Linked DNA regions of Homo sapiens. The protein of the gene in region 1 interacts with the protein of each later gene in a pairwise test. Each region holds a gene or a part of one and is shown in the gene's direction. Other genes may lie near its edges.

What was found.
Region 2: the proteins of HINFP (region 1) and RBM26 interact in a two-hybrid assay, tested with the Homo sapiens proteins (one large-scale study listed by BioGRID).
Region 3: the proteins of HINFP (region 1) and TRIM44 interact in a two-hybrid assay, tested with the Homo sapiens proteins (one large-scale study listed by BioGRID).
Region 4: the proteins of HINFP (region 1) and POM121C interact in a two-hybrid assay, tested with the Homo sapiens proteins (one large-scale study listed by BioGRID).
Region 5: the proteins of HINFP (region 1) and CDYL2 interact in a two-hybrid assay, tested with the Homo sapiens proteins (one large-scale study listed by BioGRID).

The regions. Positions count from the first base shown.
Region 1 is NC_000011.10:119,132,669-119,137,568, forward strand, and holds the end of HINFP (histone H4 transcription factor), read left to right. Parts: coding exon 1-113; intron 114-195; coding exon 196-334; intron 335-426; coding exon 427-551; intron 552-1,275; coding exon of another isoform or gene 1,276-1,415; coding exon 1,416-1,830; 3' UTR 1,831-3,391; downstream 3,392-4,900. UniProt on the Homo sapiens protein: Transcriptional repressor that binds to the consensus sequence 5'-CGGACGTT-3' and to the RB1 promoter. Transcriptional activator that promotes histone H4 gene transcription at the G1/S phase transition in conjunction with NPAT.
Region 2 is NC_000013.11:79,395,488-79,401,397, reverse strand, and holds part of RBM26 (RNA-binding protein 26), read left to right. Parts: intron 1-5,910. UniProt on the Homo sapiens protein: May be involved in the turnover of nuclear polyadenylated (pA+) RNA.
Region 3 is NC_000011.10:35,811,324-35,816,599, forward strand, and holds part of TRIM44 (tripartite motif-containing protein 44), read left to right. Parts: 3' UTR 1-5,276. UniProt on the Homo sapiens protein: May play a role in the process of differentiation and maturation of neuronal cells. May regulate the activity of TRIM17. Is a negative regulator of PAX6 expression.
Region 4 is NC_000007.14:75,414,734-75,421,157, reverse strand, and holds the end of POM121C (nuclear envelope pore membrane protein POM 121C), read left to right. Parts: intron 1-1,715; coding exon 1,716-1,838; intron 1,839-2,264; coding exon 2,265-2,362; 3' UTR 2,363-4,372; downstream 4,373-6,424. UniProt on the Homo sapiens protein: Essential component of the nuclear pore complex (NPC). The repeat-containing domain may be involved in anchoring components of the pore complex to the pore membrane. When overexpressed in cells induces the formation of cytoplasmic annulate lamellae (AL).
Region 5 is NC_000016.10:80,800,728-80,807,073, reverse strand, and holds the start of CDYL2 (chromodomain Y-like protein 2), read left to right. Parts: upstream 1-2,475; 5' UTR 2,476-2,900; coding exon 2,901-2,924; intron 2,925-6,346.

The DNA.
Region 1 (4,900 bases):
TATAAGTGCCCTCTGTGTGACATGACCTGCCCGCTGCCTTCCTCCCTCCGCAACCACATGCGCTTTCGTCACAGTGAGGACCGGCCCTTTAAATGTGACTGTTGTGACTACAGGTAAGGGGGACCAGGGACCAGAAAACAGCTCATGTTCCAGTGTTCCCCATGTCCTCCAATCCCTCCTGATTTCTCATGGCAGCTGCAAGAATCTTATTGACCTCCAGAAGCACCTGGATACCCACAGCGAGGAGCCAGCCTACAGGTGTGATTTTGAGAACTGCACCTTCAGTGCCCGATCCCTCTGCTCTATCAAGTCCCATTACCGCAAAGTACATGAAGTGAGTGGGGCTGGTGTTGGGAAGGACTAGTGGAAGTATGGGGGACCCTGGGGTGAAGAGCTGGTCTCATTTCTCCCTTCCTTCCCCATCAGGGAGACTCTGAGCCAAGGTACAAATGTCATGTGTGTGACAAATGCTTCACACGGGGCAACAACCTCACCGTGCACCTTCGCAAGAAGCACCAGTTCAAGTGGCCCTCAGGGCATCCCCGTTTTCGGTATGTCTCTCAACCCTCCTTCCCAGATTAACACACTTGTTTTTATACCTTTTCAACCAGTTTTAAAAACCTTAATTTGGGTCGGGCGCGGTGGCTCACGCCTGTAATCCCAGCACTTTGGGAGGCCAAGGTGGGCGGATCATGAGGTCAGGAGTTCGAGACCAGCCTGGCCAACATGGTGAAACCCCGTCTCTACTAAAAATACAAAAAGTAGCTGAGCATGGTGGCACATGCCTGTAGTCCCAGCTACTTGGGAGGCTGAGGTGGGAGAATCACTTGAACCCAGAAGGCGGAGGTTGTAGTGAGCTGAGATCATGCCACTGCACTCCAACCTGGGTGACAGAGCGAGACTCCATCTCAAAAATAAATAAATAAATAAATAAAACCTTAATTTGATGGTGGTTTTATGTCTGCCATTTCCATTTAGATTCAAAGAATCCTAAGAATAATGGTGGAGCAAAGCTTATTTTTCTGTTTTTTGAATCTTGTAAGGCATGGTGCCAAACCCAATAAATGGTGCCAAAAAGTCCTGCAGCTGGAACTAGAGCTAGAGTCTAAGGGTTCTGATCCTTAGCTCCAAGGCCTTCTCATAAATCCTTTGACACTTTCACCCTCCAACACAGTCAGTCAGTCTCTGTTTTTCTGGTTGGGTTTCTATATAAAACTTTCCATTTTGAGTAATGATCTTTCCCTCTTGCCTTTTCTTCTACATATTCCAATAAAGACCTTTTTTGTCTTCAACTCCTGTCACTTGGATTCCAGGACTTCTTCCATCCCTCATGTTTGTTCCTTACTTTGCCAGCCTCGGCCATTTCTGTATCCCCCTGCCTGGGTTTGCTGCCCTTTATGCTCCTACCTCACCAGGTACAAGGAACATGAAGATGGCTATATGCGGCTGCAGCTGGTTCGCTACGAGAGTGTAGAGCTGACACAGCAACTGCTGCGGCAACCACAAGAGGGATCGGGCCTGGGAACGTCGCTGAACGAGAGCAGCCTGCAGGGCATTATTCTAGAAACAGTGCCAGGGGAGCCAGGACGTAAGGAAGAGGAAGAGGAGGGCAAGGGTAGCGAAGGGACAGCCCTCTCAGCCTCTCAGGACAACCCCAGTTCTGTCATCCACGTGGTGAATCAGACCAATGCCCAAGGCCAGCAAGAGATCGTCTACTATGTGCTGTCTGAAGCCCCAGGGGAGCCTCCCCCAGCCCCTGAGCCACCTTCAGGGGGCATCATGGAAAAGCTTCAAGGAATAGCTGAGGAGCCAGAGATCCAGATGGTTTGAAGGCCGCAGAGCCAGACCATTTCTTCCCCAGGTCCTGAAGTTTGAGCCAGGCAAGTGGCAGTGCCCCTAGTGGGCAGCCGTTGCCAATGGATGCCTTTAGGAGTGGTGCCGAGAGCAGTGTGGTCCACTCTGGCCTGGGTTTGCATCATTCTGCAGACTCTAAAGACTTCCCTTTTCTGCCAGACTACATTTTGTGGGGAGCCTGAGGACTCTGGATTCTTTGAGGGGATCCTGGATGTGTGTGTTCTTGTTAAAGAGGCTGTTATCAGGCTTAACCATAACCCTCAAGATCTGCTTGACAGTGATTAAATCCTTAGCTCACATCCATTCCCATCTTTCGGGCTCCTTAGGCCCAAGGATGGCATGTGACTGGTCCCTGCAAGGGTCCTTTCTTTGTCACCAGCCAAGGCATTGATAACCAAGTAGCCATTTTCCTCTTAAGGTTTCCTCTACAACCCCAAGGACTTTCATGATTATCCTCAGGGACAGGATTGGAGGCATTGAGCGTGTTTATTAACAAATTGTTTTTGGTAATAAAATAAATGCTTGGACTCTTATTTATTTCTTCTTACATTTGGTGGCAGTTTACTAGGTAATGAGGAGATACAGCCACCCAGAAGAGGAGCTGAATAGTTAGGCTTGTTCCCCTTCTGGTGACTCAGGTGGTTTGTTTTTTGTTTGCTTAACTGTCCTGTTGTCTTCTCCTCCTCCCCTTGGTGAAACTTCGCTATTCTCAGAGCGTATGCCATTTCCATGGAGGTCCCAGGTGTTTGGCTGTGAGTGGGCAGTAGTGGTGCTATAGAATGAACAAGAATGGGCTCACTGGGAGGATAGGGCAGCTGACCATGGCCTCACTCTGAATACTGATTAGAACCCAGTGCCTCTAGGGTAGGGGTTCTTTACCTGGGAGTGGGAAGGAAGCTGGGGGGTGGAGAGGATTGGGAAGCCTCCCAGGGAAGGGAGGCAATCAAGTGGTCCAGGAACCAAACTAGAAAATTGTGTGTCTGAATGTGCATTTTCCTGGGGAAAGGATCTGTTTTTTGCTAGATTATCAAAGAGATTGAAACCTCCCAAAATAAGAATCATCATTTCGTCTGGTTCAGCTGCTTCTCAGCACCCTGTGTCCATTTTTATGGTCTACTGCTATGCTGGAGAGGTCAAGGAAATAGTCTTGGGGACAGGAAGCTGCCCAAAAAGGATCTCTGGGCCTTTTTTTGTAAGACCTAATTCTATTACTAGAAAAACTAAGGCTGAATGCAGTGGTTCACGCCTGTAATCCCAACACTTTGGGAGGCTGAGGCGGGCGGATCACAAGGTCAAGAGATGGAGACCATCCTGGCCAACATGGTGAAACCCCGTCTCTACTAAAAATATAAAAATCAGCTGGGCATGGTGGCACACATCTGTAGTCCCAGCTACTCGGGAGGCTGAGGCAGGAGAATTGCTTGAACCCGGGAGGCTGAGGTTGCAGTGAGCCGAGATCATGCCACTGCACTCCAGCCTGGCGACACAGTGAGACTCCGTCTCAAATAAATAAATAAATAAAGAAAGAAAAGAAAAACTGTGTGTGTCTATTTGTGGAAAGAAAAAGATCTCTTCATTAATCCCATCAGCCATTTATTGAGTTCCTACTATAGTCCAGGCACAGGTGCTAAGGATACAAAGATGAATAAAACCCAGGACCTTCCCTGGAGGGACTTGCAATGCAGAAGCAAGGAAAGACTAGGTAAGCTGAGTGATAGAAGTTAATCAGGGTACATTTAGAAGGCTCCAAATAGGAGTAATGGTACTACCTGGGCAAGGGATCAGGAAAGGTTTCATCCAGGAAGAGACCTTCCACCTAACCAAGACTAGATGAAGACTTTAAAGGTTCTAAACTCTGAAAAGATTGTGGTGTCCCATTTTTCATATGTAATCAGAATGAAAATATTAAGCCATGAAACATTTAAAGTTCAACATGATTATACTTAAAACATATATTGTATATAGATTAACTATCAAATTCTGTTTCTAATTTTTTCTTTTATTTTTCAGTTCCCCAGTTTTGCTGGTGTCTAAGCACTGGCGTGGGGTGTCCCTTGAGTAATGCAGCACTAATGACTCTATCCATTCTTCCATGAGCAGTGTCTTCGGGAGCAGGCCAGCATTCTATGAAAAGGACCTTCCCTACTAGTCTTCTCAGTCATGCCCACACCAAATCGCATTGCTCTATCTGGACCATGGAGACAGCAGAAGAGATTCTGGTCTGTTACCATGTGATTCCATTCCCTAGGAGGAGGGGTGACTTGGGATCCTGGACTCAGTATGCATGGCTTAGAAAGTACTGGACCAGGAGTGAGGGGTCACTGTTGAGTAGTCTAGGCAGCCAGAGGCCTCTGGAAGGATACTAAAGGCTGTGGTGGGTGACAGTGGGCTCCTGGAGGGAGGAGGGTGATGATACTAATTTGGTTACCTTAGAATTTCACCTAGAGTCAACCCTGGTCCCAGCATCATGGTGTCTGAAGATTAAGGAGACACCCTGTCTTAGTCTTCCTTAAAGGGGGTAGGGATAGGAGAGAAGGCAGGTGGCCCAGGAGTTGGAAGCAGATAACTTCTTTTCTCTTATTTGTGGCAAGTCCACAACCACAGAGGACTTAGAAGAACTGGGTGGATATAAAAAAGTGTCAACTATGGCCGGGTATGGTGGCTCACGCCTGTAATCCTAGCACTTTGGGAGGCCGAGGTGGGCGGATCACTTGAGGTCAGGAGTTCCAGACCAGTCTGGCCAACATGGGGAAACCCTGTCTCTACTAAAAATACAAAAATTAGTTGGGCATGGTGGCACATGCTTGTAGTCTCAGCTACTCAGGAGGCTGAGGCAGGAGAATTGCTTGAATCTGGGAGGCAGAGGTTGGAGTGAGCTGAGATCACGTCACTGTACTCCAGCCTGGGCGACAGACCAAGACTGTCTCAAAAAAAAAAAAAAAAAAAGTGTCAACTAAAAAGGAAAATTGAAAAAGAGGCCAGGTGCAGTGGCTCATGCCTATAATCCCAGCACTTTGGGAGGCCGAGGTGGGTGGATGGCTTGAGC
Region 2 (5,910 bases), on another chromosome or scaffold:
TACTACAGAATGCAGCATCCTAGTGTTTTCTGTTACTGCATATACTTTTTTACTATGACATTTTGATAGTATTGGCTACTATTGTAAAAGAACAAAGTTCTAAAGCATCGTGATTATCAGTGCTTTAGAGTTTAAGAAATAAACATCTTTGTGGTTTTTGTAGTATTTTTCCCCTTCACCTGTACTTGTTACTACACCTTTCTCACCACATTAAAATTTATTTTTGTTCGTGTCTGATAGGAAGAGTTATTCTTTTGGGTTGGCTAAATGATCTTTTTACTCCTGAACTTTTGAGTATTTTTGATTCCTTTGACCTTTCCTTTTCAGTTGGCTTCTTTTGGCATAGTAAGTCCATTTCCCATTCTTTAGGAAAAACTCAGCAATAATAGCAAAAAACAAAACAAAAGATAAAACGCTTCTAGTCACTTTCTTGCTAGCTTTCTGTTCCTGTCGCTGGTAAATCTTGAAGTAGTAGTCAGACTTTTAATTTTTTGTTAATTTGCCCTCAGCCATTTACTTCTTAATGTCTTGGAATAGAATTTCTTCGTTGTAATATAATTACAACCAAAATTACTTACCTCAGTGTTACCAATCAATTTATATTTATTGCCTGAAGTTTTATATTTTTTGCCCTATGCGTGTATAACATCAGTGTTGATGCCACCTTTTTAACTTACTTGCCTTGAATCCCTAATGTGTTGGTTCCTTTTCTTAAGTCAGTCTTACCCTCTTTTGTTCCTTTTCTTCAGATTCTAATTGTATTTTTCAGTGTTGTTACATTGACATTTTTTTCTTCATCCATTTTTTACTTCTGACATTTCATTAATTACTGCTAAGATTTGAATGTTTGTCTTCTCCAGAATTCATGTTGAAATTTAATTTCGTTAAGTATTAAGAGGTGATTAGGTCACGAGGGCTCTGCCTTTGTTGATTGGATTAATGCCTTTATAAAAGGTTAGGTTTTGCCTCTGCCCCTCTGACTTCTGCTATGGGAGACCTCTGACTTCTGCCATGGGAGGAACTCCGGAGGATGCAGTGTTCAAGGTCTATCTTGGAATCAGAATTGCCAAACCTGCCAGTACCTTGATATGAGACTTCCCAGCCTCCAGAACTGTGAGCCAATAAATTTCTTTATAAATTACCCATCTTGTGGTATTCTGTTATAGCAGCACAAACGGACTAAGACCTTTCCCATGAATGGTTTTCTTTGTAATACATGCCAGTGGTTCTTAAAAACTTTTTTTGGAGTGTATATTGTAGATCCTTTAAAGTCTGATTAAAGACTGTCTCCCTAGGATTTACAAATACATACACATTTGCATTGAATTTCAGAGCTTTTCACTCTGAGCTTGTTAATGGATTCCAAACTAGAACCTCTACTCTGCATTTATTTTCACATAAGTATGTTTAGACTTAACCACTCTTCACAGTCTTAAGCTTTTATCTCTAATTGCTGGCTGTATATCTGCTTGGATCGCTCATCTAAACTTCAAACTAATTTCTGAAAAGAAGTGTTTTCTGGATTCACTTATTTTAATTTCATTTCTCCAAATTATGCTGGCTTGAAATTTTTTGGCTTCTCCTTCCTCCCATTCACTTAGTCATGAGGTTCTCTCTTAATAATCCTTACTGACATTGCTTAGTAGGGGGCTCACACTCCGTATCTAAATGATTGCAGTTTGCTTCCTAACAAATCTGTTTTTATCTCTAGGCCTTTCTCCCTTCCAGTTCTTCTGACATGGATGCCCAGCCTTGTTTGTATCCCATTGCTTGATCAAAACCTTCAGCATTCCCAGATAATAAATTGCATACTTTTTAGCTTGCCTTTAAGAAAGCTAATGATTTGCTTTAAATTATCTTTTCCATTTATATCTTTCTACTTTTTATATGAGTCTTAATTTCAGCAAAGCTGAACTTTCGTGATTCACTGTCATTTTTTTTTATTGTTTCTTTTTTCTGAAACTTTACTGTTTCTTTTTTCTGAAGATTAGTAGTGGGCACCATTTATTGAGTGCTTACTATTAATATATGTTAATTGTTATACATTCATTGTGTGCAAGATAGGTGTTAGGAAGATGAATTAGCATACTTTATTCATAGCTAGTAAGTGATGGAGACAGGATCCAAAAGAAGACATTTTGATTCCAGAGCCTTGTTGTATTATGGTGTACTGTCTTTATATCCTTTCTTTGTGTTGAAGTCAAAGATCAAGTGTGATTCCAGTTCTTCCAGAAAGCTGCCTATGATCTATCCAGCTGGGTGAAGTGACTCCTCCCACCATGACTCCTCTCTCTCAGCACTGGTTTCAGTTGTCATGACACTCATCACTTGTACATTAAATTATTTAGTCGTGTTATTTTAGCTTTATTATTAGAGTCTCAGGCCCTTGAAAGCAGACTCCAGCTCTTAAGATTTAACTATGTTCCTGTTCATTATATACATTATCTAGCACAATGCTTTGTGTGTAGTATATACCTGATTATTAAATGCGTTAGTTGAAATTTCAAGTTTGTGTACCTAAAACCAAGGGAAGAGGCAATAATTTGGGTAAAACTATAGAATCTACCCAACTTCAGAACAGCAGATATGTGAGCTATTTGAAGATTAAGTAGTCTTTGGGTCTACTTCTTTCCATTTTTACTCCTAGCATCTTCAGTTTAGGTAAAGCTTAAGTTCAGATTTTTTTTTTCTTTGAGAGGGAAAGGTCATTGAAGTATATTAATATTTACTTGTTAAAGTATTATTGAATGTTGCTATGTGCAAGATTGCTGTCTCCATAGAGCTGCACATAAAAGAATTATAGTAATTCTAACCTGATGAATTTTATAGCTGGTAGAAGAGTTAATAGTCTATAATTATTGGTTAAAACATTTTTCTTTATTTCTTTATCCCCTTAACTTGTGATAAATTGACTTTCATAATCACATTTTGCTGCTGCAATCTTATTTGGCCTTTCCATCTGAATGCTGAGTGGTTAAAATGCATTTAGCACTTTTTTTCTGTATGTTTTAGCACTTCCTTATCTTTGGCTGACAGTGCTTCTCAAAATTATTTTACATGCTTAAACTGAGAGATAGGGACTGTATTATGAGCAAAATGTAAAATATTCCCATGTTAGTTATGTACATAACCTAAGCTTGAGAATGACTAACTGAAGCTTGAGCTAAATAGCTTGTAAGATTTTTTTCCCTCTTCTTGCTTCCTTTGTGCCAGAGAAAAGAATGAATGAGAGAAATGAATGAATGGTAAGCTGTTCCTACTAGACTTACTCATTACTCTCCTACTACTTTATTTCTGTGGAAAAAGTCTTTTCAATTTACATGCAGTAACTTTGAAATAGGTAAAAGTTTATTTTTAACTTAGGGTTTTATTAGTATCTTTTATGTGTGTATTAAATAATGGAGTAAGTTCAAGATCTGTTACTTAGTGATTCTTCTTGAGATATTTTACCTATGTAGAAGCATTTCTTTTGTTATTTTTTTCTGCGACATGTTTTACAAATGCTTTTAAAATTTTGATTTTCTGATTTTTATTGTTAGTATATAGAAATATATTTGTATATTGACGTTGAATTCTGAAATTTTACCAAGTGTACTTATTCTAGTAGCTATTTTATAGATTCTGTGGAATTTTCTTCTACCAATCTCATCATCTATGAGTAATGACAATTTTCTGATTTTTATACCTTCATTTCTTTTTTTTTTTTTTTTTTTTTTTGAGATGGAGTCTGGTTTGTTGCCCAGGCTGGATTGCAGTGGCGTGATCTCAGCTCACTGCAGCCTCCACCTCCCGGGTTCACGCGATTCTCCTGCCTCAGTCTTCCGAGTAACTGAGACTACAGGCACGTGCCACCACACCCGGCTAACTTTTTTTTTTCATTTTTAGTAGAGACGACAGGGTTTCATCGTGTTAGCCAGGATGGTCTCGATCTCCTGACCTCATGATCCGCCTGCCTCAACCTCCCAATATACCTTCATTTCTTATCATGCTGGCTAGAAGCAATAGTACAATGTTGAAGTAGTAAGAGTGGACGTCCATGTCTTGTTTCCAGTCTAAAGGGAAAGAGATTAAATGTTTCAGTATTACTGATATTGGCTCTAGGTTTTTAGTAACTGCCTTTTACCAGATTGAGAATTTTTTTCTTAATTTGCTTAATATTTTTGTCATAAAAGGTTATTGTTAACTTGGCTAACTTCTTATTTCTTTTTCTTTTTTTTGAGACAGAGTCTTATTCTCTCACCCAGGCTGGAGTGCAGTGGTGCAATCTCGACTCACTGCAACCTCCACCTCCCAGGTTCAAACGATTCTCAGGCCTCAGCCTCCTGAGTAGGTGGGACTACAGGCGTGCGCCACCACCCTTGGCTAATTTTTCGTATTTTTAGTAGAGGTGGGGTTTCACCATGTTGGCCAGGCTGGTCCTGAACTCCTGACCTCAGGTGATCTGCCTGCCTCAGCCTCCCAGTGCTAGGATTACTGGCATGAGCCATTGTGCCTGGCCAGTTCTTTTTCTCCATCTGTTGAGACGATCATACAGATTTTCCCGTTTTTTTGTTAATATGGTGTATTACATGGATTGCTTTTCAAATATTAAGCCAATCTTGTATTCCTGAGGTAAACCAGGCTTGGTCATGTTATATTATGGTAGATTTGATAATATTAAAACAAGTGGAAGTATTCTATCCTCCGTTTTTCTGAAAAAATTTATTTAGGGTTCTATTTTTTTTTCCTTAAAATTTTTGGGATCCTTCACCAGTGAAGCCATCTGGGACTGAAATTTTTGTTGTGAGGATTTTTTGGTTATAAAATCAATGTCTTTAATAGGTATAGGGCTGTGTAGGTATTTCTGTTTCTTCTTGTGTCACTCTTGACAATTTATGATATTCAAAGATTTTTCTGAAGTTGCCAAATTTATTGACATTGCATTGTAACCTTACTATTCGTTTAATAACTAGGATTTATTGTGATGCTTCCTTTCCCCTTTTTAATTATACCTTTGGTTGCTCTTTTATTTTCTTAATCAATTTTGCTATTAGTTTTTCAGTTTTATTCAGCTTATTAAAGAACAATGTTAACTTTTTTTTCTATTTTCTATTTCAGTGTTTTATTTTTATGATTCCCTTTTAAAACACTTTGGGTTTAATTTGCTGTCCTTTTCCTCTTAAAGTGGAACCTAGGTCGTTGGTTTTACACCTTTCTTTCAGTTATTTTATGATATTGTTCCATTGCCACCGTCCTCTGTTGTTTCTGGTGAGAAATCTGCTGTCATTTGAGTCTTTGTTCTCCTGAATGTAATGTGTCTGTTTTCCCCCTTTGACTACCTTTAAGATTCAATTCCTTTTATTTGGTCAGCAGTTTGACGATGATAGGCTTGTCTGTCTGTGTTTATGTGTTTTATCCTTAGATTTGCCAATTTGGATCTGTGTTTTGGGTCTTTCATCGGTTTTGGAAAGTTCATTGGTCACTATGTCTTCAAAATTTTTCTGCCCCATTTTTTTTTCCTCTTTTTCTGAGACTTTATATTTAGTTCCTTGTATGTTAGATTATATGATATTATCCTGAAAATCTCATGTATGTTTTAAAAAATTACTTTTGTCCCTTTGCTTTTGATTTGGATACTTTTTATTTTCCATTTTTTTGTTTGTTTGTTTGTTTAGAAACAGTGCCTCACTCTGTTGCCCAAGCTGGAGTGCAGTGGCATGATTATAGCTCATTGCGGACTGGACCTCCTGGGCTCAAGGGATTCTTTTGCCTCAGTAGCTGGAATGGCAGTCACACACCACCACACCCAGCTAATTTTTTAATTTAATTTTTATTTTTTTTTGTAGAGATGGGGTCTCACTATATTAACTAGACTTGTCTTGAACTTCTGGTGTCAAGTAATCCTCCCAATTCAGCTTCCCAAAGTGCTGG
Region 3 (5,276 bases), about 83 Mb from region 1:
TATAACCTAAAGAATACTTGGTGCCAAATTATGTTTTCAAATAACATTAAAGTTTTAGAATTTGGATGAACTAGAAGGAAGGTAAAATTGTAATTTTTGCCATATTTTCTAGAAAAAAAAATGTCTTTTAGAGCAAATTACAGTTAGGCCAACAAAATCTTTGTTTTGTGAAACTTTAGAAATACATATTTGCATGTAATTGATGAAAACATAGAATGAGTTGTAAATGAAGCAATTCCAAGCTGGTTTGAAGGACCAGAGGTTGCATTGAAATCAGAAGTCATATACTCAGAGGCCTTCAGGAGCCAAATGTGAAGACTCAAGATGGTAGATACTGTGTGAATTAGAAAATACCAAGCCCTGCCTAAATGCATTAAAATTTAATGTTTAAAAATCCTAAAACCCACCAGCAGGTGTATCTGGAGGGACAGTTTGTGGACTCTCCTCTAAATTTTCTTTTAACACATTTATCTTCATCAGACCCTTTTAGTTAGCTAGGGACTGTGTGAGAACCTTGAGAAAATTGTCCAAGAGAGGGAGATAAGTCACTCAAGGTCACCCAACAAGCCAGGCTGGTAAAGCCCAGGACAGCAGACTCTCTGTCTCCGAGAGCAATCATTAGGCCCTACTTCCTCTTCCCCAGTTGCGGAGGACACTGCTGCCTGGTGGGGTGGCACTGCCTGCCACTGTAGCACTTAGGAGTCTTCAGTGTTTTAACAAACCACAATGTGTTTGGAGGTTTTCTTCCCTGCTTCCTGGTGCCAGTATCTCAACACCACATCCATTGCCCCAGCCCTTTCTTGTTTTATCTTTCCCTCTGAAAGCTACAACTCTATATTTTATTTTATTACTCTTTGTTTGGTCCAACATGGCCCCATTTCCTTTATACTCATAAAAAGGTAGAATTTCAGCTTGTCTGGAATATCTCCTGGCCTTCACAAGGCACCAGAGTTAGAGACACCCAACAGAAAGTCGTAATAAGAGAAGATGTCACAGAAATAGAAACAAAAGCAAAAGACTGCTTGAAGTCAGTAACAGACTGCACTAAGTGTCTGTGCTTGTTAACTATTGTAATCTCCAGGTTTAAATCATTCATTTATGTTAATAAGAGCTGTCACTTAGCTCTTTCTCTGGGCCAGGTACTCTCCTGTTGTTTTTCACATTATCATAATAGTAACAGCACCAATACTATCATTCCCCACTTTGTTGCTCAGGAATCAAATTTAGAGAATTAAGTACTGTGACCACGGTTACACCCTAATAAGCGGGAAGCCAGAATTTAAACCCAGGTCTAGCAGACTTCACAGCCTCTTTCCTTAATCTCTTCTCTCCTAGCTGCACTGATTCCATCTTGTATTGGTGAATAACAACACTGATCCCCCTACAACTACCCCCACACATGTACAGTATGGCCTTGGGGCAAAGGAGTTTGCCTTTTGCAAAGAAGGTCTTGCTTTGTATAGCCTGTAAAATGCAATGTACAGTGAGGGAAAGAAAGTCTAAGGGTAGCAGTCAAATCTTCTGGCCTGAAACTGTACTTTTGGAAGGGAGAACTGTTAGACTTGCTTTATCTTCTTTATTCCAAGGCCATAAATAAGAAAATCAACGAGAGGCAAAACCATGTCTTCTTTTGCTATAGCGTTAGAATCCTGAAAGTCAGCCAGCTCTGACACTGAGTCTGTGATTTAATTAAACATGTTGAAGGCTCTCCAACAGCTTGACGTCAGGCCAGCTTCATATTCTTGGAAAGGGACAACAGCAAAAGGAGCTTATCTGTTTTAAAGTTCACTTACTGAGTTCAGCTGTCACGGCCACAGCATACCATTTGCCTTATAAAAATGGCCCACAACCTTCACAATATTTTAGGATTCATGGCAACTCATTTACCTAGGGCTTAGCCACCTGATAGCTTTACCTATCCCTATTTCCTGAACACAAAATCTAAACCAGTGGTTTGACAATGAGTAACTGAGACAGAACTAGAAAAATCTAGAACCTCTGCTGAACCCATCAAAAGTGACTGAGAATTAAGAAGTAAGCAAACAAGGCTTCCAACCAATTGAAATAAATACCATGAAGCAAACGCATAAGACAAAGGCCATACATCTAGTCATCAGGCACCTCCTCAGAACCTATTTGCTCTTCCTTCACACATATTTCTAACTGTAAAGGAAAGAAACAGACTTTTAGAGGAAACAAGAAGGAAAAAGGAGGACAGCAATAGAGAAAATGGAAATTTTGAGTAGACTGCAAAGCTCCAAAGCCCTGATATATGGGTTATTTAGTGTCAAAAACAGTCTATACACATCTCAATCTTTAAGAGCCTCACTGTATCATGGGACAATATTCTATTTAAAATGATGACCCTGTGCACCATACATAAAAAAACTATGCTTAGAAGACAAAAATATGTATATCAAACATTTTAGAAATATTTACATCCCAATGGTTAAAAAAAAAAACTTTTAGGAATTAAAAGGAATAAACCTTTGACCATCCAGAATATTTAGCTAAATCAAACAGTGTATATCCCCCTAGCTGACTTTTATTGTTTCATGAGCCTCTGGTGTTCAGAGAGTTTTTTTCACAGCTTTGTAAGTGACTTTCATGCTACAGTGCTTTGCATATAATGGCATGAACAGTGGAGGTGCCAACTTTCCAATGTGATGAATAAAACTAATAACTAGAATACAGATCAAATTCTGTTACAACAAATACTGCTACCATAAAAGTCACTTAAGCATCCCTGTTAGTTCTAAGCCCCTGTCGATTGCCCATTTATTTTAGGCAATAGTCATTCAACAAAATTGGAGCATAATAAAAAGAAACTGGACCTCAGCGCAAGTTGAGTGTTACACAATTTAACCTGTAATAACAGGTTCTCACTTGTATTTCTCCAGCTCTTTGCTGTAAGAAGAATAAACGTTATGTAGATATAATACCAGCGTGACAGCTTGTGGTTGGTGGTTTCTAGAAGAAATAATTCAGAAGCAAAAGACACATGAAGTTATGTGGCAGTTCCTCACTAGGGAATTTGGTCTCCAGGGCCACTTTTGACCTTAATCCATGTTGGAGCCATCAATCAAAGAATTGCTTGCATCTAATAATGGTGTAATGCCAATACTAAGCCCTGGAACGAAGATAGGATTCATTTCTCATGGATTATTGAGCACTCTGGGGTAACCTGGCCCTGATCTGATGACGCTAAGATTTAAAAACCCAGATGCATGTGACTAGAACTATCTTTTCTCCCATGATGCACTGCTTTCAACACTGCATGACTGTAAAAACATGTGCCACGCTGATTATATATAGAGATGGTCTAAATCAGCTGCATCCCATTTGGTACCCAGGCAAGGATTTTTCCATACCTATCTTTTTGCTGGTGGTAATGATGAGTTTTGTCACTTGCTATAACATTCTCTGTCCGTCTTTTTTCTTTTATGTAAATACTTTTGTGACTTCATTGTAACCAGCATTTTGTAATACTCTTAACAGCAGAGGGGATTAAATCATGATTCACTTCTGAACAGTACAATCAGCAGTAGGAAAACGAGGAGGGAGGGAGAGGGAAATTGTCCACCACTTCCCAATGATAATGCCTGGCTCGGACCCCAGATTCACATCATACTTGAAGTTCATAAATTCTGGGCACTGCTCAGCTTGAGGAGGCAGGCATTGCTCCTTCATATTTCAGGGTGAGACAAATGCTCTGTTGAAGCCATGCCACTACAGGATACATTCACCTCTGCTTGCTTTCCTCCCTAAGCCAGAGTGTAGTTAAACATTTATATGTCCCAGGCCAGGAGATCAAATTAAGAGGAGGTTAGCTACTTTCCCTGGCTCTTAAAAACATTTGAGTCCAAGTATGGTTCTCTGGCTTGAGGGTGGCCATTTGTTGCCTCACTGTTTTTATTAGGACATCTGGAGATTAGAGGTGTTAATTGGAAGTAACTTTTCTATATTTGGTTTCTCTCCACACATTATGAGACCTTTTAGACCCAGTTGGATGGCTGTATCCTAGTATGAAATTCAGCTTCTAAGTAGGAAGAACTATGATAGAGGAACAAGATTGCTCTTTGACTTGGTGATAGTAGGGCAATAGGGAGTGTCAGTAGGGTAGTTTCAGGTGGGGAGGATGACAAACCACTGATAACAATAAAAATGGGTATTTCTCAACACTCAAGCCAATTTCCCATTTGATAACAAGTAGGTTCTGATCTATTTTCCCCAAATTAATATTTTCCCTGGAAGATTCTGACCTGTCTGATCAAATAAAGGCATTCCTCTGAGAGTATACCTAGCCCACTTGTGGCCAAATTATACTTGACTGTTATGTACTCAAAACAAGCTTTCCTGTTAATCTCTTTCTCTTACCTCTATTATGAGGACAAGACGTGGAAGAATTAGGTCACCGGGGCATCTGCCATTGCATATGTTTAAGTGGTATAAAGAAGCCAGGATTCCTAGAATGGTCTGTCTTTTGCCATTTCTGGGACAATGAGAAAATCCATCTGGAGTGTTTATGCCCCTCTGAATAGCCAAGTCATGGGCTTGTTTGCTTTCAGTCACTGCCTTCAGAAAAAGACAATTTTACAATGACTTACTTCTAATAATCACTGAAACAGCCTCATGAGGACATGCAAAACTGCTGTCTATCTTCAGACCTGGCCCATTGTCAAATGGCAGACTTGCAGAGCAAATAAGGGACCTGGCCTAGTTCACAAGGCAGTCAGAAGTGATCCAAAGTTCAGGCTCCCCCTCCCTTTTATCACTCCACCCTGCCTCTACTCCTCCGCCTCCTATTCTTCCGGCCTTTCCATCTGGAAACCATGAGCCTCATGGATTCCAGGCACAAATTCTCAGATTTCAGATGTTTGGGAAATTTCTCAGCTTGGGTCATTCTTCAAGAGTAAGAAATTGAATTTGTGAGAAAAAAAAACAGCTGAGACTGTTTCACAGAAGAGAAAATAAATAAGGTGTGGTGCGTATCCATCCTCTTCCCAACTCAGCTCCAAAACCACACACAATGTCTAACTTCAAAAAGAGTATTTAGATCCCCCCTGGGAAGGAACAGAATGGAAAAACAATCTCCACTCATAAAAACACTTTTCTGCCTTCTACAGTATAAACACAACTGGCATCAGATAATACAATGTAATTGATTTTATGTGTGTAATTGGGGAACAGAAGGGTCTCTAGAGGGTAGACCTAAGAGTAATGGAATGGAGTGAAAAGTAAAATTTAGACTAAATTGTTGGGAGGAAACTGTTAAC
Region 4 (6,424 bases), on another chromosome or scaffold:
CTAAAAATACCAAAAAATTAGCCGGGCATGGTGGTACCCACCTGTAATCCCAGCTGCTCGGGAGGCTGAGGCAGAAGAATGTTTCAACCCAGGAGGTGGAGGTGGCAGTGAGCGAAGATCATGCCACACTGTACTCTGGCCTAGGTGACAGAGCAAGACTGTCTCAAGCGTAAGCTGAATATGGGGGTGGGGTGGGGGTGGGCACAGCACAAGTGGACATGCCTTTCAGGCCCAGGATGGCGCATGCAAAGGCCCAGAGGCAGAAACATGTTTGGTATGTTGAAGAGCAGAACAAAGACAAGCATGGCAGGAGGGCAGGAGCTAAAGCAGTGGTGTGGAAGGAGGCCAAGAGGCGAGGATTGTTTGTGGCCAGGGTTGGGTGTTTGGGTCTTAAGTGTTCAGGAAAACCATTGCAGAATCAGGCAGAAGGATGCAGTGATGGTTCCTCCCGTGTGGAAGATGAATGTAGATCCCATGGCTTCTGTTTGCTTCGTGAAGTAGGAGAGAAAATCTGGGAGAGGGAAGGTCGGGATAAAGTGTATAAAAAAGGGGTCTTTTGAAATAGTCATTTTGGACAGTGGGGGAAAGGAACATCATATTAAAAAGTGTGATCAGTTTCCAGGCAGTTTGTGGGCTGGAAAATTGTGATTGTGAAGTTAAAGTGAGGCCAGTTAGCATGGCGTGTGTTTCCCAGCGACACTGGGTATAGATCTAAGGTCAGCGGACAGCTGGTGCCACCCGGCTGTGGAGACCCCAGCAAGCACAGCAGGAGGGGCAGCGGGTCAGTGCCCCGATGCAGCTCAGGGGGTGCAGGAGTGGAGAGCGGGTGAAGTCAGCTGCAGGAGGGGTGGTGCCTGCAGGAGATTCGGGAGCCGGAGCAGTTGTGGTGACAGTGTGGCTGCAGGAGTGGTGGCAGGGGTCGGGGAGAGGAGGTCATGGGGGTGGCAGGGCCGAGGGGCTGAGAGGACCATCAGTCAGCCCCACAGGGCGAAGTCACCGTGAGTGGTGATGGGGAGGAAGCCAGTGAGCCAAGGGTCCTCTGTGAATCAGGGAGTGACCTGGCAGTTGACAGGTGACATGAGGACATGGCAGATTAAAGTGATTTGAACCTGAGTTACGGTATTTAGGGAAGGAAGAGAAACTGTGTGGAAGCAGCGTGGGAGCACAGGGAGCTTCCCCTTGTCCGGGCCGGAGGCCAAGCCCTGAGAGCAGCCATCCCTGCAGAGGGGCTGCCAGAGAGGGCATCGGGCAGGCAGCCAGAGCCAGTCAGGGCAAGGCCGGGGAAGGGAGGGGACCACGGGGCATCACAAAAGACACAGGACGGACAAACCAGGCTTCAGAGGGGAGGGGACGGTGGCTAGGGGGAAAAGGCCTGAACAGAGGAGGTAGCCAACCCAGGTACGCTAGGAGGCGGGGGCCCCAGAGTACTCCCCTCTGCAGCGATGGTCAGGAGGCCCACGAGGTGGCTGCGGGGCAGGGGGGCTTTTTCTCTGCCCTGGCGTGGCCATTAGCGGGTGGGAGAAGCAGGCTGAGCTGGGGCACCAGGCATGAAGACTCGGTTGTCTGGCTCAGCTGCTGATGGAGGAGTGCCCCAGAAGCAGAAGTGGGGCTGAGGGTCCCGTGGGAAGTGCCCTGCAGAGCACAGGCTCCTGCCCGGCTCCTCGCCTGCCTCCGCCCTCTGCTCACTGGCTAGCTCTCTGTTCTCTTCATTCCAGGCACCGCCACCCCCACCTTTGGTCAGAACACCCCTGCGCCTGGAGTGGGCACATCGGGCAGCAGCCTCTCCTTTGGGGCATCTTCAGCACCCGCCCAAGGCTTTGTTGGTGTTGGACCGTTCGGTAAGCAGCAAGCCACCCTGTGGCCCTGCTCGTCTGTCTGAGGAGAGGTTGGGTGGGGTGGCAGGCTCCTGGCCCTCTGAGGCCCCGTGAAGATCAGGTTCAGCACAGGAAAGACATTTCGGGTTAGGAGTACAGCACAGCCCAGGGATGGGAGTTGGATGGCAGAGATCAGAGAGGAGCTGTCCGGGGTGGAAGTTTGCCTCCCATGGGAAGCCAGGTAAAAATGGATTCGTGGGCCTCGCTCTGAGACTCTGGGAGTTTGCATTTCAGGAGGCTCCTCCCGTACAGTGTTTCTGACGCAGCGGGGAAAGCCCTATTGAGGCACCCTGTGTTTTATTACTGGCCTGGCCTTCCAGAGATTTGGGCACCCAGAGCCAGAGTCTCAGGTAGCAGCTGCCCTGATGAGGTCTTGTTGAATCTTTCCAGGATCGGCGGCCCCTTCATTTTCCATTGGTGCGGGATCCAAGACCCCAGGGGCTCGACAGCGACTGCAGGCCCGAAGGCAGCACACCCGCAAAAAGTAGCCTTTGTCCCCTGTCCCTGTTCCCCCCACCCCTTCCCTAAATCTGGACCTTGGCACGTGCTAGAAAGAGCCTTGGACCCTTCCAGCTGCGTAAAGCAAACCTACCCCGGATCTCTGGCTTCAGCCGCCAGGGGGCAGTGGCAGCCCTGGGGCCCTTTCCCTTCTGGAGGAAGCACAAGCCTCAGGGAAGGGGAAGCAGGATGCGGAGGGCCAAAGCCCGGGACCTCTACTTGAACAGTTCCACTGGGGAGGCTGGAGAACTAAGGACCTGTACATAGTGTCCGCTGCCCTGACTCCCGCTTAGCGCACCCTTAGGCAGGCGCCCCTTCCACCTTTCCCCGAGAGCCGTCGTCGCTGGAGGGGGCAGGGTCCAGCCCGCCTGGATCGGTGGTGTGCACCTGATGGGATTTGGGAAATGGGTTATCCCTAAAGCTTTATCTTGCTTGGCTTAGCTGTGAGAAGTGGTTCTCTTCCTCTGGTCCCTTCTGGGGACTCTGTTTCCCCATTTCTTGCTGCTGTGTCCCTCACCGGTTCCTTGCAGGATTCCCTCCTTTTTAAATGCCCTTGAATCTAGCTTTGCCTTGGAGACCCCAGTGGGTGCTGCTCCTGCCGTTTTCTTCCTGCCAAGCCTGAATCAATGTTTCATCTCCAACCCTCTGCCAGTTTGGCCCCTCAGAGCTTGGTGGCTCAAGACTGTTAGCCTGGCAGAGCCAGGGGTGAAGGGAGAAGCTCTTGGAGCAGGCAGGATGCCCACTGCTGCTTCAGCTGCCTCCTCGCCCAGCTACCCTTTGGCCCCATTGGGCCCTCGTCTGCCTCTCCAGGATTGTATGTTTCAAGCCTTGTCCTGTGTTCCTTTGTCTGACGCTCTGTGTATTGCTCTTTGAATCGAGTTTGGAGGAAGAGTTGAGTTGTATGAGTGGCGGCATGTTGGTAGTGCCGGACTTCCTGTTTCAAGTTTTCTGGGGCCTCGCTAATTGAATGTGGAAAGTAGCACCACTTGACGGCTACAAGTGCCGACTCCTGAATTTTCCCATGGTGTTCTGACTTCAAGGGCTGGCAGCCAGGGAGAATGGGCCCAGGGGAAGCAAAGACCTCTTCCCTCTGCGGTTTCTGTCCCACTTAACTGACCTCACTGGAGGCTACGTCACCCAAAGTAGATGTTAGAAAACCTAAATTAATGAACCATATTTTTAAAATCCTATTTTTCCCAAACAGGGCCCTCTGCAGCCCATCCTTTCCTTCCGTCCTTCTGAAACCACATACCCCAGGCCCAAGCGCCTTGCTGTCACGCCCAACCTCTTTGGGAGAAGTATGAATGCGTGTGTCTAAATTAAAAGAAAAAAATATTTAAACGTTTTTTAACAAAAATTTATTTTTGTATTTAAGCTAAATTGCCTTTTAAATTCCTTCAAGCTTGGTTCATTGAGGTGGTTAAGTATAAATGCTATTAACTAGGAATTAGCTGTATAGTTAAGTTATGCCTGTGCAAAGAAGAGGCTCAAATGCTGTCCCCGGCAGCTTTCCTGGGGGACTAGAGCTCCTTCTGGCCATGTTATATGAAATGTAATTCTTATTTTATAAATAATGTGATGTAGATGTAACCGGTGCCCCCTCCCCGTTGTGACTGAGGGCGAGTGTTATACCTGGCTGCGTGTGCAGCTGAGGAGGGAGTGAACCTCAAGCCTAAATACCTGTTAGGATTGGAGGGTCTGGGTGGGCCTGGGCCTAGCAATCAAGCTTCTACCTGTACCTTATGTAAGGTAGACCCTCCTAGTGTCAGTACCTGAGCTTGTTTACCTCAGTTCCGCAGGCAGGACAGCCGGTCCGGGAACCCTGAGTGAGAGTGAGTGTGGATGTGTACAGTACACACACTGGACGGCAGCGGGAGGCTGGGACTTTCCATTACAAATAGAGACTTCATTCCTGTTGAGTCTAGTTGGAATTTTTAGTATGAATGTGAGATTTTTCTCCTGCTTGTGACATTAAGAATAAAAAACTGTGATCTATCGTAGAGTACGTTCTGCATTTTATTTCTGCAGGCAACACTTTTGCTCACCAGCAAGAACACAGCCCGAGGAAGGGACCCAATAACCTTTCAAAATGCAAACTGCTGCCTGCGGTGAGGGCCCAGGGTCCTCCACGGAGAGGACAGGCATCTTCCTTTCCCACCAGGAAGGAGTCAGCCTGGAGCCTCTGCTATGTGCAAGGCGGTGTGCAAGCACCGGCTGCGGCTCTTTGCTGTCTCTTCTTTCTCTTTGGGGCTGGGCTGGGTGTGCGTTCTGGTGCTGATGCTTTGGCCTGTGAGGCTGAGCTAGAGAAGTGTAGATGTTAGATGTGCCAGTACCATCCTGCGCCTCCCAAGCATGCCCCCACTCACTCACATCGGCATCTCGACCCGTTCAATTACAGCAACGAAGAAGCCACCGCTAAGCGTGGTCTTGGGGGAAGCCCGGAGGCAGTGCTCGGCACCCGGGAACGTGCTCAGGCCTCGGTGGGGCCGGGCAGGCAGGGCGGGAGCTAGCCTGCAAGAGAAACAGCCCCAATGCTGGGTAAGAGAGCAGTTCACCCCATCCCCCCCTCCACGACCCTGGCGCCCGCCCTGTACCTGAAGGCGCCCGGGTTCTGCTGCAGCGCATCTGGTACCATGTCTTCATTCTCCTCCTGGCAGAGGGAGCACATGGAGTAGACGAGCCGCTGCAGGGAAGGGAAAGTGAGCGCGTGGCACAGGGCTCGCTGCTGGAACCCTGCCAGGGCATGCAGACGCACCGGGCTAGGTGTCCCTGCCCCGGGATCCTCCAGCTGTCTGCTCGGCATACCTAAGGAAAAGCGTGTCTCGGTTACACAGCTTCACAGGCTGCCTCAGTCCTGAAATCCTCGCTCCTGAAATCCTTGCCTCACAGAGGAGAACTTTTGCTCCAGGGTCCCAAGCCCATTAAAGTGTCAGAACTAAGACCAAAACAGATGACTCCAGGTCTAAGCTGCTGTGGACCTCCGAGTCCCTCAGCCACGCCTTCTCACCATCTCACCCGAGCCACTGCAGGAAGGATCCAGCAGGACATAGTGGACCTCACGATAGCGCGGATCTAAGGGGGAGACCGCCAGGAAGTCCTCCTCAGCCAGCTCACAGCAGGAGACGCCAACCCAGGCCAGCAGCGTGGCCATGGATGCCAGCCGCTTGGCATCCAGGTCAAAGGCAAAGATCTTCCTAGGGCAGAGGGCAGAGCAGGGGTGAGCTGAGCATGCATGGAGCAGCTAAGGGCCTGTCACAGCTGACACAGACAACCAGAACATGCAGGTTAAGCCAGGACACACAATATTGAAACGGCCTATATTTAAAGGGCCCAGGGTCAGAGGTAACTGGCCTGGGGTCTCTGCCCCAAGGGCTAAGGGATCCACATCTCACACCTGCAGTGGGGAAAGCTTAGCTTGGGGCAAATACCGTGAACTACTTTGGTACAGCAGGAAAGAGTTAAGCGAAAGTCATCCTTTCAGCCTTTATTACCCACTGAAAGGCACAAAATCAAACCCCATGTCCTCCTCCTCCTCCTCCTGTGGCACTCACCCTTGGTTCTTCAGAAGAGCAGCCAAGTGACTGGTCTTATTGCCTGGGGCGGCACAGGCATCGATGACATGGGAGCCTGGCAGGGGTCCAGCAGCATGGCTGGGAGACAGCTGGCCTGGCAGGCAGAACACAGGGGCCGGGTAAACAGAGACCCCAGGCTAGGCCCTTCCCGTGCCTACACATTCTTCCCTTTTCTATTCCTCTTGCCTACCCTGTCCTGCAGAATGAGGTGTCCGGCCCGGTACAGTGGGTGTTCATGCAGATCTGTCTGGGCGGGAAACACCAGCAGCTCCGGCATCAAGGAGTCCAGGAGAAAATGCTTCCCCTTGAGGGCTTGTAAGTCATCAAGGCTGCCAGGGAAGAACCATTCATTCATTTCCTGAATTTCTCCCTGCCAGGCCCTATTTCAACGGTCCATTCATGCAACAAATGTTACCACAGCTATGGAGAAATCAACAGGGTGATAAGGGAATCCGGGATCCGCAGTTGAGGGAATGGGTT
Region 5 (6,346 bases), on another chromosome or scaffold:
AGTCCTCAATGCACACACATCCTGTTAGTCATCAAGTCCTGTTGATCTGAATCGAATGCTTCATGGAAGTAGGTGGAGTAACCATAATGAAAGTTAGCCTGGTTCTTCCTTCTGAACATCTCGCAAATCCCATTTTTCTTCTTCATTTCCACTGCTAACACCAGGGACCATTGCAATTGGTCTCCCTGCCCCTAACCTCAAACCCTGCAGTTGATTTCCCATATTTCTTCTAGAATTTGTTTTCTACAGTGCACTTTTGATAGTCACATGCTTTTGATTGATTCAAAAGTCTTCATCAGTTTCTCCACTGTTGACCTACTAAATAGCAAACTTCTTAGCTTGGCTTTCAAGACTATCTCCGAACTGACCCACATTCACCATCCAGGGTCCTGTGACCTCCATAAACCAGTCCTCCAATCTTCTCATACCCTTCCCATAGCAGAATTGCTTACCATCTACTCTGACTTCTTCTCCTCACGGAAAACACTGTCCTTCCTTTTCTATGAGTCTTCAAGATCCATTTCAGTCCTAAAACATTTCCTGAGCATGGTCATCCACACTAAGTATCCTCTTCTGTGAACTCTGTAAACAACTGTTGTCTAGACTAGGGTTTTTCAAACTGCACTCACATTCTCAGGGAGTACTTGGCCAGTACAAGTCAAGCTTTTGGTGTTTTTGTAAAACTACTGATTATATATTCAAATTTGGCTTAGTATATTATTTCCAAGCCCAGTTTCCTTCTTGTCTTCTTCCAAATTACATCCTCATGCTATGGTGGTGCATTTATTCGTGAGTACAAATTAAGACTCATTAAAATTTGTTTAGCTACCTACAGATAGAGAACTGCTTATTATTACTGTTATTATTTAAAACCATGACCACCGGGAAAATATCAATATGAAGAGAGAAGTTCTATAACAATTTCAACAGTTTCTAAGCCAAATATGCTTTCTGATTTATTAATTCCTTATCCTCACCATTTTTTCCTTATCTTCATGCGGGATTTTAACTAGAAATTGGTATAAAATTTGTTATATTGGCATAGTTCGAAAAACAATCACTGTGTACCTACTCTCTCTCAGGAACAGTGGAAGATGCTTGCGATACAAAGATAAACAAGCCCCTATACGAAGAACAAGAATGTTCCAGATGGATTCAATGTGGAAGGACATTCTAGGCAGGGGGAACAGCAAATGCAAATCCATGTGTCCTGGAATGAGCCAGACATGCTTCAGGTTCCATGGAGTTTTTTTTTTTTTTTTTTTTTTTTGGATTAAAAAATTTGGTGACTTTTCAAAGTTTGACAACCTCAGGATTAAACAATTTATCGAGCCCCTCTGCCATCTCACTCTCCATGAGGGCAGTCCAGGTTGAGACTCAGATACAAATCACCTTTATTGAGTTCTGCTGGGATGGACAGGTCACTTCATGTATACGTAGATCCTCTCCTTAATTCTATTTAAATCACTTAGGTGACTATCACCATCTCCCATCAGGGTTCGGTGACCTGCCCACAGCCTCCCAAGTAGAAAATGATCCAGGGAGCATGTGAGTTAATGATACATCACATCTGGAGCCAGGCAGGCATTTCATGGGTGGGGATGAAGATCTTCCCTCCAATTTCAGAAGTCTGACCTTGCAGGTTCTGAAGTAACTATATACATAAATATTTATAAGGAGAACCCTTTAAGCAGAGGGGTGACCATTTATCCATGAGAGATGGCTTAGGAACGGATTTGGGTTTTGGAGAGCTTCTCTAGCTCCTCCAGCTCCGCAGCCTGTCACACGCAGGATGACCTTTTAGAACAACTGAGTGCTCCATTACACTCCTCACTTGCGGATTCAAACTGTCTCTGGGCAGGGTCCCAGTTTTGCCTGTCCAGGGACACTGTGCACTTGGGTTGACTTTGGTAAATGTTTGAGTAAGGGATGAGTGAATAAATTCGGGGAGAGGGGTTGTTGAGGGAAGGCCACCCCTGGCTCTAAAGACTTTCCAGGGTTTATGGGGTGGCCACGCCTGTCCTGGATCCCCATGGTGCCTCTGGATGGGCCATTTCATCCTTCCTCCCTGTGGCCTCCACATCTTACAACCCAGCCTGGAGGGAGGGGCCGCGCAGCCCCGAGGGGCCAGGTCTCCCAGGCGGCGTCCACTCCCCTCGAGGGTGGAGGAGGTAGGTGGGGACCCCGGGCCGGCGGGGCTCGGCTGGGGCCCCTTCCCTGAGGTCTGCAGCCGCAGCCCTCTACCTGGCTCCCCGGCCGCCCCTTCGCGGCCCCAGATCGGGCGCACCCGGCGGGCACCTGGCCCGCCGCCCCCCGGGGGCCCCGCCAGCTGCTCCCGAAGCCGGCCCGGGGTGGCGGGGCGGGCCCGAGCGCTAGTCGACTCTGGGACCGGTCCCCCGGGGCGCGGCCGGGCAGCAGCCCCCGCCTCCCCGCCCCGGGGGCCGGGCCGGGCTCCCGGGGGGCGGGGACTCGCCCAGTGGCAGCAGCGTCCGGGCCGGCGGCGGGCGCCGGGCGGCTTCCTGCAGGCGGCGCCGGGGCGAGCCGTTGCCGGCTGCAGCCACCGCCGCCGGGTCGCCGGGTCGCGGGGGCCGCGGCGCTCGGGCCGCGTCCGTGCCTCCCGGGCGCGCTGCGCGGCCGTCGCTGCTGCCCGCGCTCGTGCCGCCGCCGCCGCCGCCGCCGCTGCTGCCGGTTACGCCAGCCCCGCCGCCGCCCGCTCTGATTCTGCGCATAGGCAGCCCCCAAGCCTGTCATTCTGCAAAAACACAGTTTACTCAACACACCACACACACTCGCACACACACGCGCGCACACACACGCGCACACCGGACCCCGCGCGCACACGCACGGAGGGCGCGAGCGAGCAGACGCGCACACCGGCGAGCCAAGTTCCGCAGCCTGGCATGGCTTCTGGGGACCTTTACGAGGTACGGGGACGCGGGGGCGCGGGCCGGCCCCAGTCAGCGGGCGGCGGCGGGCGGCGGCGGCGGGCGGCGGGGACCGGGCCGGGGCCGGGGCCGGGCGCAATCCGGAGTTGCCGAGCCCGCGGCGGCGGCGGCGGCGGCCGGAGGGTGGCGGGGGCCGGGCGCGCCTCCCGCCCGCCGCCCGCCGCCCGCCGCCTCCCGCGGCGCCCGCGCCCGCTCCCTCTTTCTCTTTCTCTCGCACACACACTCTCTTACTCCATCTACTTTGCGGCCTTGGAGGGGAAGGAGGAAGCCGGGCGGAGCCGGGGCGGGGGAGGTAGCGGTCCCGGGGAGGTGTTTCTCGCCCGACGAGCCGCCTCGAGTACAGAAAGTACAGGTAAAAGTCGGCGCCGGACGTGCTGGGAATGCGGGGGGGCGCGCCGCGGCCGGCGGGGGTGTGGGGCGGGGGTTGCGCGGCCCGGCTGGGCCGGGGGCGCGGGGGAGGAGGGGGGCGGGCGATCGGAGCGGAGCCTGGCCGGGGCGAGGCGGGGTCCCGGGGGGCTGCGAAGGGGGAGGCTGGGTGGGGGTTCGGGGGGACAACCGCCAAACCGCTCCCCGGGGTCCCCGGGCCACCTCCCTCACCCCCCACCTGCTGCCCCCGCACCAGCTCGGACGCCCTCCGGGCTCGGGCGTGGGGGTGGCCCTTGCGGGTGTCGTGCTCCCTGGGGGCGAAAGGGGGCGCTGCGGAGGGCCCTGGGTGGGAGGAGAACGTGGAAGTCTGAGGTGTTGGGGACATAGGACACAGATGCCAGCCCAGCGCCCAGTACTCTCGTCACCCTCAGTGGATACCTGGCTCCAGGTCCTAATGAGTAGTGGCCAGCGTTGGATACTCTCATGTCTTCCCAAAAGTGGCGAAGGAAGACATTAGTCTGGCATCTTTCAAACAATGGAGGAACACCCATGGTCTTTGGGGAGCAAGGGCTTAGGAACACAACTGTTACTGCTTTGGGTTTTCCACAAGTGGACAACACAAGGAACAGCCAGCCACCACTCCCCAGAGGGAATGGCCTCAGAGGTGTTGGCCGCCAAGACCAGGTTCAGGATAAAGAAGTTAAGAGACCAGCCATCTTCAACCAGAGGGCCTTCTGGGCCTCCGTGAAACCAGCCGCATGGGTTAGCCTGGACCTGCACTTCCCGGAACATAAATTGGTTAACGCCATCTGGTTCTTAAGGCTTTGGGGCTCCATTGAGATAAGCACCCAGAAGGGGTAGAATTAGCCTTTTGCATAAGACATTGTAGGGTGATCCACCCACGACAGACTGCAGGGGGTGATTCCTAAGAAGCTCTTTCCTCTAGGCCCTCGTGGGCAGTTGAAGCTTTTTCAGGTGGTGGGTTTGCTGACTGGCGTTAGAGAAGAAGAATGGAGAAAGGAGCACAGGTCTCCTGTGTGACCATGTTCTTGTGAATGATTCTGGAGTTGGTGAGGCCCAGGCCTGGACTGCCGGCCAGCAGGTTCAGGTGGGGTGGGTGGGAGACCTTAGAGCTCCTTGAAAGAATGGTGTATGTTGCCCTCTTCACTACCCTGTGGCCGTCCTCATCTCTATGCTAAGAGACAAGGTGAAGTTGGATAGAGATCTTGTGAAGAACTTCGGCAAATGTGGCCAATGGATCACCCAAGCGCCTTGGTCTGTTTCAAGATGGTGGAACAATTTCTGAAATTGAAAATTGAAGCACAGTAAAATAGAAGGTTTGATTGAGTTTCCTTATGTGTAACCAGTACTGTGGGGACATTGGCTAAAAGTAGATATTGTTTAGGGGTGAAAGTGATCTGGTTGGAATCATGGTTTTCTACGAATTGAGGTTGAGTCAGCTTAGAGCTGTTGACCTTGCCTGAGTGAAAAGTTGTGTCTTGAAGGTGTTAAGAGGATGTACTAGGAGTCATCAGTATTTCCCCATTTAAAGTTTAGAACTTATGAACCTTCTGGGGATAATTTCTTGTTTAATGTTCATCTGCAACTGCCCTCCTTAACGCTGGTAATTGTCGTTGCCAGATTAGTCTGTTAAGAGGAGAGTTTTCACGGTGGCCTTGGAACTATCTTAGTATCTCAAGAGTTTTTATAGAATTTCAGTTAAGGAGGACAATAATAATAATTACTTCTGTGATAGTAGGTAATTGTACTAGATGGAAAATGGCTTTCCCATGGCTGATTATTTGCATAGTCATTACTAAAAGGGCTAAATTGCATTACGAGAATATAACGAATGTCAACATTTTTATAGCCTGTGTCTACATTACATAACATATACTGAGAAATTTAATTTATTGTTCAAATTTAGCTTTAAGAACAATTAAGAAGTGCTAAGTGTACATTAGCATATATATTTCTGACTGTAAAGTTGTTATGTGGGTAAAAAGTAGCATATTGATTTAAGAAAAATATTGGAATATCCAGTGTATGTTGACTGGCCTTGAAAGGAAAAAAAGAAAACAGATTTCATTCTAAATTATGAGACCTGTTTATTACTTTCATTAAATATTATACTAAAGTGTACATAAAATGGCTTCTCGCAATCTCTACTCAAGAAACCACGTTTTTAGTGGGCCAAGAGTTCTTACGTTTGTAATTGATATATTTCACCTGTGTGTCTGCTGACATTATCTTTGAGCCTTTATGGTGAAGTGTGATTTGGATTGTAGAGATTCTTCATCTTTTCTTTGGCATTTCAGACAATTAAGTTGTAAAGAGTGAACCTCCATAAAGCAGTTGTTAGGAATAGGTGCTGATTTTTAAAGACACCAGAAAACGAAAACTTTGTTTATGTAATAGCACTCTTCAATCATAGTGAAGAAATAAGAAATCAAGCTCAGGTTCCAAAATCTTGGATCTTGATAGATAGTTCTGGTTTGTTTCTCCTGTAGTGGAGTTCTCATCATCTTCTGGTGCATTGTAGCCATCACTTATAGGAAGGTGATTTTAAATTTTGGGTTATGTCTTAGAGTCAGGTATCTGTCTGGATCGAAAGTGAAATTTCTTAGCCAGATGCCCTGGTCTATATTCGGCTAAACATAGGGGCCATGGAGTGGCAGCCTGTGAGCCAGGTCTAGGCTGCATACGCATTTTGACTTGGCTCAATGGTAGATAAGAAAAACGATTTGAACACTTTTAGATGGAGCATATGATCTCTAGCTTGTCCCTGTCCCCTTGCTCCCTATTACCAGGCACCCATTCTTCTTAAATCATTCACTGGGCTCCAGTAGACTTTAGAGTTTGCAACCTGATTCTAGTCAATCTTTTGCTAAGATGTTTGGGTGTCAGGAAGAAATAATCAGTGGGATAGGCTCTCAGTTTTCTTGTCTCTCTCTGGGTTTCTACCTGCTTGTACGTTCAATTACTTGTTGACTGAATCAGTGAGCAGAAGACTGGTTTAAGTATATAAAGTACCC